Homo sapiens: one gene and its partner. The protein of the gene in region 2 purifies or fractionates together with the protein of the main gene of each other region. This does not show direct contact. Each region holds a gene or a part of one and is shown on either strand. Other genes may lie near its edges.

The links.
Region 1: the proteins of MVD (region 2) and ASS1 fractionate together in Homo sapiens (co-fractionation; one large-scale study listed by BioGRID). This does not show direct contact.

Annotation. Positions count from the first base shown.
Region 1 is NC_000009.12:130,453,928-130,458,460, forward strand, and holds part of ASS1 (argininosuccinate synthase), read left to right. Parts: intron 1-377; coding exon 378-446; intron 447-4,473; coding exon 4,474-4,533. UniProt on the Homo sapiens protein: One of the enzymes of the urea cycle, the metabolic pathway transforming neurotoxic amonia produced by protein catabolism into inocuous urea in the liver of ureotelic animals.
Region 2 is NC_000016.10:88,655,754-88,661,319, forward strand, and holds part of MVD (diphosphomevalonate decarboxylase), read right to left. Parts: intron 4,885-5,566; exon of another isoform or gene 4,767-4,884; intron 2,968-4,766; coding exon 2,897-2,967; intron 2,277-2,896; coding exon 2,162-2,276; intron 1,830-2,161; coding exon 1,683-1,829; intron 1,495-1,682; coding exon of another isoform or gene 1,393-1,494; intron 552-1,392; coding exon 352-551; intron 1-351. UniProt on the Homo sapiens protein: Catalyzes the ATP dependent decarboxylation of (R)-5-diphosphomevalonate to form isopentenyl diphosphate (IPP).

The sequences.
Region 1 (4,533 bases), on a different chromosome or scaffold from region 2:
AAGCTAATCTTTGCACTGGCTGAGAAAGAGTTTTCTGGAAAAGACAGATGAGTTTCAGGAGAACCCTAGACCTTCCAGCAATGACAGCAGATGGTTGTCTCCCAGCAGCCTGTGTGGCCAGGGCCAGGCTCAGCCAATGCTCCAACCCATGGAAGCCACCAGCCATCACCACGCTACAATCCAGCTCCCAATCTCACCTCCTGGAAGAATCTCACCTCTCCAGGCCTTGGGCTTTGTCCTTTTTCCTTCTTACTGTGACTTGGCCATGGAATGGAAGCTGTCTCTGTAGCAGGGGGTGGGAGGCTGCTGCATGCGGATGGTGTGAACTCAGGGCTCCCCCCAGGGGCTGACGGAGCCTCTCCGCTTCTGCTTCTCAGGCCAACATTGGCCAGAAGGAAGACTTCGAGGAAGCCAGGAAGAAGGCACTGAAGCTTGGGGCCAAAAAGGTACCAGGCGGGAGGCAGGGATTTGGGCTGGGAGTGGGGCGGTGATGTGGAGGGCAGTGGTGGATGCTCCTGCCCCAGGGATCCCATCCCTTCCAGTGTGTCTTCTTGCTTCTAAGAGTATGAGATCATCCTGCTCTCAGGTGTGTGAACCCTCTTGTTTTTCTGCCTCCCCCACGCCCTCTTCCACCCACCCACCTTCCCATCCAGGTGGAGTGTCTCTTCCCCACCCACATACCTTCCCTTCTCTTTTATCTCTCTGTCCATCTATGCACCCACTCACCCTCTTTTATCTCTGTTTATCTACTCGTCCACATATCCATCCATCATTCATCCCTCCATTAGCTATCCATCGATCCATCCATCCATCCATTCAGCCATCCATCCATCCATCACCCACCCATCCATTCACCCATCATCCATCCATCCATCCATCCATCACCCACCCATCCATTCACCCATCATCCATCCATCCATCCATTCATCCATTCATCCATCATCCATCCACCCATCCATCCATCACCCATCCACTCATCCACCCATCCATTATCCATCCATCCATTCATCCATCCATCCATCATCCATCTATCCATCTATCCATCCATCCTCCGTCCATTCATCCATCATCCATCCATCCATTCACCCATCATCCATCCATCCATCATCCATCCATTCATCCATCATCCATCCATCCATCCATTCACCCATCATCCATTCATCCAGCCATCATCCGTCTATCCATCCATCATCCATTTATTCATCCATCATCCATCCATCCATCCATCATTCTTCATCCTTCCATGCATCATCCATTCATCCATCCATCATCTACCCATGCATCCATCCATCATCCATCCGTCTATTCATCCATCCATTCATCCATCCATCATCTATCCATCCATCCCATTATCCATTCACCCATCCATCCCTTCATTATCCATCCATCCATCCACATATCCATCTGTCATTAATCCCTCCACTGTCTATCCATCCATTCATCCAGACAGCCAGCCATTCATCTATCCATCCCCCATCCATCCATCCATCCTTCATCCATTCACCGTTTTTCTATCCATCCATTCATCCATCCATCCATCTGTCATCCATCATCCATCCTTCTGTCCATCATCCCCCTACCTGTCCTTCCCTCTTTTATCTCTCTGTCTACCCATTCTTCCATTCATTCAACAGAATCAGAGAACTCCAATTGAGTCTGGTGCCTTGATTGTGAATCTAGGCATGTGGCAGGCAGACCCCTGTCCCATACAGGGCATTTATGATGAACAGTGTCATCAGGACCCCTGCTCACATGTGCTCACTCCCCATGGAGAAGCCCTTGCCACTTGTGCCCCTTCATTTGGGAGAGTGAGCAGGGGACATAGCAGGGATGATGTGCAAGGCCACCAGCCCACCTGCAGGGTCAGAGCTGATCCCCTCTGTGGGGTGCTTCTGCAGGGTTGCCAGGGTAATTAGCATGTTAAAATGAACACGGGAGGGAGTGGATGCCCCAGTCCCAAGTCACCTACTGGCCACAGGCCTGGAACTAGAATGTCCCTCCTTGGTTCTGTGCCTCCCGAGTGCTGGAGAGCAGAGGGGTTGTCTGAGCAGTAGTCCAGGAAGGGGAGAAAGAGCCCTGAGTGTTGAAGATTCGAGTGCGCTTTCAGCAGCGCAGGAGCAGGCTTTGTGCACGGCTTCAGCTTTTGTCCTTTATTCTAGATGAGCAGTTCTCAAAACTTGTGGTCTTGGGAATCCTCTACACTCTAATTTACGTGGCGTTTTTAATGTTTATTTTCTTGCATATAACATTAGGATGGGCCAGGCACAGTGGCTCACGCCTGTAATCCCAGCACTTTGGCAGGCTGAGGCAGGCAGATCACCTGAGGTCAGGAGTTCAAGACCAGCCTGGCCAACATGGTGAAACCCTGTCTCTACTAAAAATACAAAAATTAGCTGGGCGCGATGGTGGGTGCCTGTAATCCCAGATGCTCGGGAGGCTGAGGCAGGAGAGTCGCTTGAACCCAGGAGGCGGAGGTTGCAGTAAGCTGAAATCACACCATTGCACTCCATCCTGGGCAACAACAGCAAAACTCTGTAAAAAAAACCAACCAACCAACCAAACAAACACAAAAACACATTTATCCTAATGTTTTTTATATATCCTTAGTCCCAATTGCTTTCTTTTCTATGCCTTTTTATTTCATTTTTTAAAAGGATTTTTTTCAAAATAATTATAGACACAGGAAGTTGCAAAAGCAGTACCAAGAATTTCTCGACTCTTAAAAATTATTGAAGGCCTTGGCTGGGTGCGGTGGCTCACGCTTGTAATCCTAGCACTTTGGGAGGCTGAAGTGGGCAGATCTCTTGAGGTCAGGAGTTTGAGACCAGCCTGGCCAACCAGCCTAGTTTCTTTAGTAGAGAAACCCCACATGCCTGTAGTCCCAGCCACTCGGGAGGCTGAGGCAGGAGAATCACTTGAACCCGGAAGGCAGAGGTTACAGTGAGCCAAGATTGCACCTCTGCACTCCAGTCTGGATGACAGAGAGTCCATCTCAAAAAAATAAAAATTACTGAAGGCCTTAGAGAGCTTTTGTGGATTACATCTGTTGATATTTATCACATTAGAAATAAAAGCTGAAATGTTTTAAATGAACAGTTCATGTTAACATAAGTAACATTACACTTATGAAAAATAACTATTTTCTCAAACAAAAAATTTTAGTTAAGAATCTTATTGGCTTCCATTTTTGCAAATCTCTGTAATGTCTGGCTTGACAGAAAACAGATGGACTCTTGTAGCGGTTTTCTGCATTCACTTGTTTTTTCGTTTGTTTGTTTGTTTTTCTTTTTTAGCCTCCCAGGGCTTCCTCGCTATGTGATGCCTTGTTTTATTGAAGTTTATGAAGAAAACTGGGCAACACAGTGAGATCCCATCTCTACAAAAAATAAAAAACTTAGCCGGGCGTGGTAGCACATGCCCGTAGTCCCAGCTACTCAAGAGGCTGAGGTGGGAGGATTGCTTGAACCCAGGAGGTTGAGGCTGCAGTGAGCTAGGATCACACCACTGCACTCCAGTCTGGATGACAGAGAAAGACCCTGTCTCAAAAAAACAAAAAAAAAGTTTTCACTCAGTGTCTCCCTGAAAAGTCATTGGGAACCCCTGGGGGTCTACATTTCAAGAACCATTCCTCTGGATCGGGGTTTCTCAGTCTTGGCCTTGTTCCCGTGTGGCTGGCCGTCCTGTGCACGGGAGGATTTTAGCAGTATCCCCATAGCCTTTACCCACTAGATGCCAGAATTCCACCCCCCACCTGGTAGTTGTGGCAACCAAAAATATCTCCAGATACTTCCAAATGCCTCCCCTACTCCCACCCCCAACAGGGACAAAACCGTCTCTGGTTGGGAACTACTGCTGTGAGATCTTAGGTGACAACTAAGTTTCATCTTGTTGGGGCTGATTTAGAAGCCACATCCAGTTTCACAGAACGGTGCATCAGGATTGATTAGCAGGCTGGCCGCGGTGGCTTGTGCCTGTAATCCCAGCACTTTGGGAGGCCGAGGCAGCTGGATCACCTGAGGTCAGGGGTTCAAGACCAACCTGGCCAACATGGTGAAACCCCGTCTCTACCAAAAATACAAAAATTAGCAAGCCATGGTGGCATGCGCCTGTAATCCCAGCTACTCAAGAGGCTGAGGCAGGGGAGTTGCTTGAACCTGGGAGACGGAGGTTGCAGTGAGTTGAGACTGAGCCACTGCACTCCAACCTGGGCAACAGAGCAAGACTTCGACTCAAAAAAAAAAAAAAAAAGAGAGCTATTGATTAGCAATGTCTGCCATGAGTGCAGGAGGGAGAGTAACAGTGCAGTGTGCTGGGATTGATGAATGATGTCTACTACAGATGCAGAAGAAGAAGCACCAGGTACAGCGGGGGTGGCCCCGTATAGGTCTCAGCTAGCTGAGGCCCCTGGGGCTCTGTATGCCAGATGGCCCCTGTCCTTGCCTACTTCTTCCTTCTGGGCTCCTCTTCCCGTAGGTGTTCATTGAGGATGTCAGCAGGGAGTTTGTGGAGGAGTTCATCTGGCCGGCCATCCAG
Region 2 (5,566 bases):
GGCCACACCCTGCAGGGGGCCAGCCCCAAGGACCTCAGCCTCAAACACTCGGCCCTCCCTCAGCCAATGCAGGCAGCGGGGGTGGGAGTCAGTGCCACCTGCCTGACCACAGAGGCCTCCCGGCCACAGCAGGGGTGACGCAGGGGCAACTTCCAGATCCCAGCGGGTGGTGGCGCCCGCCGCATGGGAGCGGTTCCTGAGCACTCAACCACGCTTCTGTTCCTTCAGCCCCCGCTGACCCCAGGAGCCAAGCAAAGCCTGGATGGACGCCTTCGCTCCTGCTCCCGGCAGCAGCCCTGACTAGGGACAGAGGCCACCGGGCTGCTGCTCCACCCGCCCCACCCCACTCACCACAAGGATGAGCACGCGGAGTTCAGGCCAGTGTGACTCGGGGGCCACTTGCCGAGCGATGCTGTCCTTCCCGTCGGCCTGCTCTCCCATCTGCCACTCCACAAAGCCCCCATACAGGCTCCGGCAGGCGCTGCCTGAGCCCCGGCGAGCCACTTCTGAGAGGTCACTCTCCACGCCGTAGACACGGGCCAGGGTGTAGGCTGCAGGCATGCGGATTCAGGGAGGGTCCTCAGAGCTGCCTGCGCTGTGCTCCCTGACAGCTCACCGCCCCAGGAACGTCCCACACCCCACGGCAAATGGGGATTTCCAGATGACAGGGCTTCTGGGCCATCAGCCTTTGAGGCCAGCATTCACCGGCCCAGCCGTCTGTCCCCCACCTCCGCTAGTTCCACTCTCGGACACTCTCTGTTCACGGCCTGCAGAGCTTGCGGCCCGCGACAAGGGCAACAAAAGGTACCTGCGGCAGAGCAGGAAGCCCCATGGAAGGCGGGAGAAAGGCCCCCGAGGACACCCAAGCTGGGCTTTGAGGGTGGGAAGGAATTTTAAGGCTGTGTGGGGCAGGGACCGATGCCAGGACAGAGCTGGACTCCACAAGACGCGCCCCCTGCCCACCCAGCACGGGAGCCACCTTCTCCCCTCCTCCCACAGGGCTCCAGCAGGGCAACCCCACCTCCAGGTCTGGTCACCCACCCTGGTCACCGAGGGTGGTTCAGGGAAGGCGCAGGAGCCCAGGTGGGCCAGGAAGCGTCACCCCTGGAGTTGAGGGGTGAAGATGGTGTGAGACCACCACCGGGGGGACAGGCTCTGACAGTGGGTGGGAAGCTGCCAGCAAGTGGCCTGGGGCCAGCAGAGAGCTGGGTCCAGCGGGGCCTGCAACCAGCTGTGCCCATTGGAATCCTCAGTTACGTGAGCCACAAAATCATCGCTATTTTAGGGCTGAGCCAGTTTGAAGTGGTTTCTATCACTGACAATCTAGAGGGGCTCCACATACAGCAACGGGAAGATTTTTTTATTTTTTGTAGAGATGGGGGGGGGTCTCACTATGTTGCCCAGGCTGGTCTTGAACTCCTGGCCTACAGTGCTTCTCCCCCATCAGCCTCTTAAGTACTGGGATTACAGGCGAGAGCCCCACGCCAGCTGCAACTGGAAGATGAAAATGTTCAGATGTGCTCTGGGAAGAGACTGAACAACTCCAGAGAGGCCAGGGAGGCCTGGGGTGAGGGGATGCTCTTTTAGCCACGCCCAGCAGTGGGCTCCCTGACCCGGGAAGAGCATGAAGTGGCTCCTGCGCCCACAGCCCAGAACCCCTGCGGGTCTCTGTGGGCACCCACCTAGGCAGGCATAGCCCGCCGCTGAGGAGGCCAGGCCCGCAGCCGTGGGGAAGTTGTTCACCGATGCCACGTGCACCTTGCAGCTGAGGCTGGAGGGCAGCGGGTCCCCATCCCGTGAGTTCCTCCGCTTCCGGGCCAGGCAGCGGACTGCAGAGACAATGAGACAGCGTGTGGCCCAGCCGTCAGCACCCTGCCCGCCCTGCTCCTGCCCACCTGCCCGGGGTCACAGCTGAACACCAGGCCTCTGCCTGCCAGACTCCTCGTGGAGAGTTTCTTACCCGGGAAAACCCCAGACTGACCCAAGCCCAGCTGGTCATTGAGGTGGGCCACTGCCCTGGAGCTGGCGGCCCAGCGGGCATGTCTGGTTCCCAGCCACCCCGCCTGCTGCCTCAGGAGGGGCACAGAGGCAGAAGCACTTTCTGGATGCTCGGACCCTGCTGACAACAGGGAGGGATGGGCTTATGGGGACCCCAGCTCACTCTCCCGCAGGCAGGCCTGCAGCCGCGGCTGCCCCACATCCTCCTCCCGGCCATTCAGCCAAATCCGGTCCTCGGTGAAGTCCTTGCTGATGACGGCTGTTGTGGTGGTTTTTAACTGAAAAGGAAACCCAGGGCCACCTCAGAGGCCAGCATTGAGGACCGATGCCAGCCAGGTACCCCTTTCTACTGAGAGAGCCTCATGGCTGCCCACTCGAGCAAGGTCAGCCCTGCTGAGGGCAGGGGGGGAAAGGCCAGTCTCAGCTGGGCAGTGGGGAAGCCCGTGGGGGATGAAAGCGTGGGCCACACCTTGTGGAGCAACCAGGCCTTATCCTGAATAAAGAGACGGGGACTCCCAGGGGAGCCCCTGGGGCACGGTGTGCGCATGTGTGACGAGACCTGGGGGCACATGTGTGCTGTGCTCAGCTCTCCTAATACTGGGAGATGGAACAGACACTGCGTGCTGGCTGGGAGTCGTCGCTAGGCCATCTCATCCTAGCCTTTAGGTAAAAAAGTACCAATTTTTTTTTTGTTTCAGAGACAGGGTCTCACTCTGTCACCCAGGCTGGAGTGCAGTGGTGCGATCATGGTTCACTGTGGTCTCCAATGCCTGGGCTCAAGAGACTCTCCCCAAGTGCTGGGATTGCAGATGTGAGCCACCATACCCAACGGGTACCAACTGTTCTACAAATGTTCTGGAAATGGCACTGTGGTGTTTAGTCGTCAGTCCACACATACCTGGTCCTGGTGCAGAGTGACGCTCAGGGAGGAGTTGATGGGCAGAACCAGCTCTTCATCGCGCTTGCCCCCTGTAATGAACAGCCAGGGCCAGGCCGGTGGGCTTCCCGGCCCACCCTCCCCCAGTGTTCCCCACAGGTGCCCCCACCCCCCACCCACGGCCCCCATCCGCCTCAGTCCCGTCTCTCACCGCACAACCTGTGTGCCCCTCCTCCTGCCAGACCCCGGCCTGCAAGAACTGCTCCCACCCCACTGAGCTCAGGCTCCCAGAGCAGAGCTGGAGGCCAGCCAACCTCCGTCCCCGCTCCCCATTCCTTCATCGCTTCTACTCCAGCATCCGTGAGTGCCCAGGTGCGGATCGCTCCCACCGCGGCCTGCCTCCCCTCCACCTTCCCAAACAAAAGGAGCCCAGCTCTGAGAACTCCTCACATCTCACTGCTCATATGCCCCAGGAACATCCAGGATAAACCCCTTTCTGCCCAGCACGGCCATGGGACAGCACGTGAAATCAAACTTCCAGAAAGCCCGAAAGGAAACGTTTGCCCTGGGAGCGCTGCGTGGTGCTTCAGCTGAAGTCTTATTCCACGGCGGCTTCGCTAAGCACACCATCTGCTCGGTTTTGTGCGAGGGGAGGTCTCTGAGGATGGCGGACAGTTCCAGGGGTGATAAACGCGGACACCTGGCAGAGAACCACGCCCTGCAGCTCGCGAGGCTCTTTCACGCACAGCACTGAGCGGCCCCCCTTGCAGGCGGACGCCGCTGCCCTGACAGGCCGGGCGAACCTCTGCTTTCAGGAAGGTGGGCCAGGGGACTTCTCCCGCTTCCTCCCACTGGGGACAACTGAGACCCTGGACATCACAGGTGAGACTCTCACGGGTGACAGAGGGCGGCTGTGGGACAGTGCAGGGGGAGCCCGGGGCTTTCTTTTCTGCTTGCCCTAGACCTAGCCCTGCAGAAGCTGGAACTGCCAACCAAAGCCAGCCCTCCCTAGCAGGACCAGGAAGGGCAGCCTAGCAACACAGAAACAGACTCCTGGCCGGGCGCGGTGGCTCACGCCTGTAATCCCAGCACTTTGGGAGGTCGAGGTGGGCAGATCACCTGAGGTCGGGAGTTTGAGACCAACCTGACCAATATGGTGAAACCCCATCTCTACTAAAAATACAAAAATTAGCCAGGCTGTAGTGACGCACGCCTGTTATCCCAGCTACTCAGGAGGCTGAGGCGGGAAAATCGCTTGAACCTGGGAGGCGGAGGTTGCACTGAGCCGAGATGGCACCACTGCACTCCAGCCTTACTCCAGCCTGGCAACAGAGGGAGACCCTTTCTCAAAAAAAAAAAAAAAGAAAAGAAAAAAAGAAACAGATCCCTCCCACACTCCAGGCTGGAACAGTGCCCCGCCCCCTTTCCCTCCCTGAAGGAGTGGGGACTTTCACCTCCCCAGGAGTCATTGGAGAGCACACGGGAGACTGGACTCCCCTGACCTGCCGGCTCTTGTCAGAGGCCAAGCAGACACTCAGGAATTCCTGAGGGCCTGGTGGGGATGGGACAGCGTTGGTGGGGAGGGGAACCTGGACTTCTGCCTCCTTATCTTGAGCCAGCACCCCCTCCTCCACCAGCGCGCTATCAAAAACCAGCTCAAACGTAAGGTTTAAAGAAGACCAGAGTCTCTGAACGTTACAAGAAAATGGACACGTTTCCATAAATATCACTGTTGGTGAGCCTCAGTGGCTCACACCTACGATCCCAGCACTTTGGGAGGCCGAAGCAGGCAGATCACTTGAGGTCAGGAGTTTAAGACCAGCCTGGCCAATATGGCAAAACCCCGTCTCCACTAAAAGTACAAAAATTAGCCAGGTGTGGTGGCGCACACCTGTAGTCCCAGCTACTCGAGAGGCTGAGGCAGGAGAATCGGTTGAACCCGGGAAGCGGAGGTTGCAGTGAGCCGAGATCACGCCATTGCACTCCAGCCTGGGTGTCGCAGTGACAGTCTGTCTCAAAAAAATAAATATAAAAGTAATACAAATAAATATAAAAATATAAATATAAAATAAATAAATATAAAAAATAAAAATAAAAGGCCAGACGCGGTGGCTCACACCTGTAATCCCAGCACTTTGGGAGGCTGAGGTGGGCAGATCACGAGGTCAGGAGCTTCAGACCAGCCTGGCTAACACGGTGAAACCCCATCTCTACTAAAAATACAAAAATTAGCCAAGTGTGGTGGCACGTGCATGTAGTCCCAAATACTCAGAAGACTAAGGCAGGAGAATTGCTTGAACCCAGGAGGCGGAGGTTACAGTGAGCCAAGATTGTGCCACTGCACTCCAGCCTGGGTGACAGAGCAAGACTCTGTCTCAAAAAAAAAAAAAAAAAAAAAAAAAATAGCAGAAGAGAAAATCCAGAAATAGACCCACACAAACATGCCCAGCTGATTTTTTTTTTTACAAAAGTGCAAAAGCAATTCAATAGAGGAAGGATAGCCTTTCTGGGCTAACTGGACAACCTTGGATCACAGACTTAAATATAAAAGGCAATCCTGTACAACTTGGAGGAAAGCAGACAATCTTCAGGACATAGGGCTAAGCAAAGAGGTCTTAGACTTGACATCAACATTGATACACTGAACTTCTTTAAAATGAAAAACTGGCTCTTTGTTAAGAGGACAAAAAG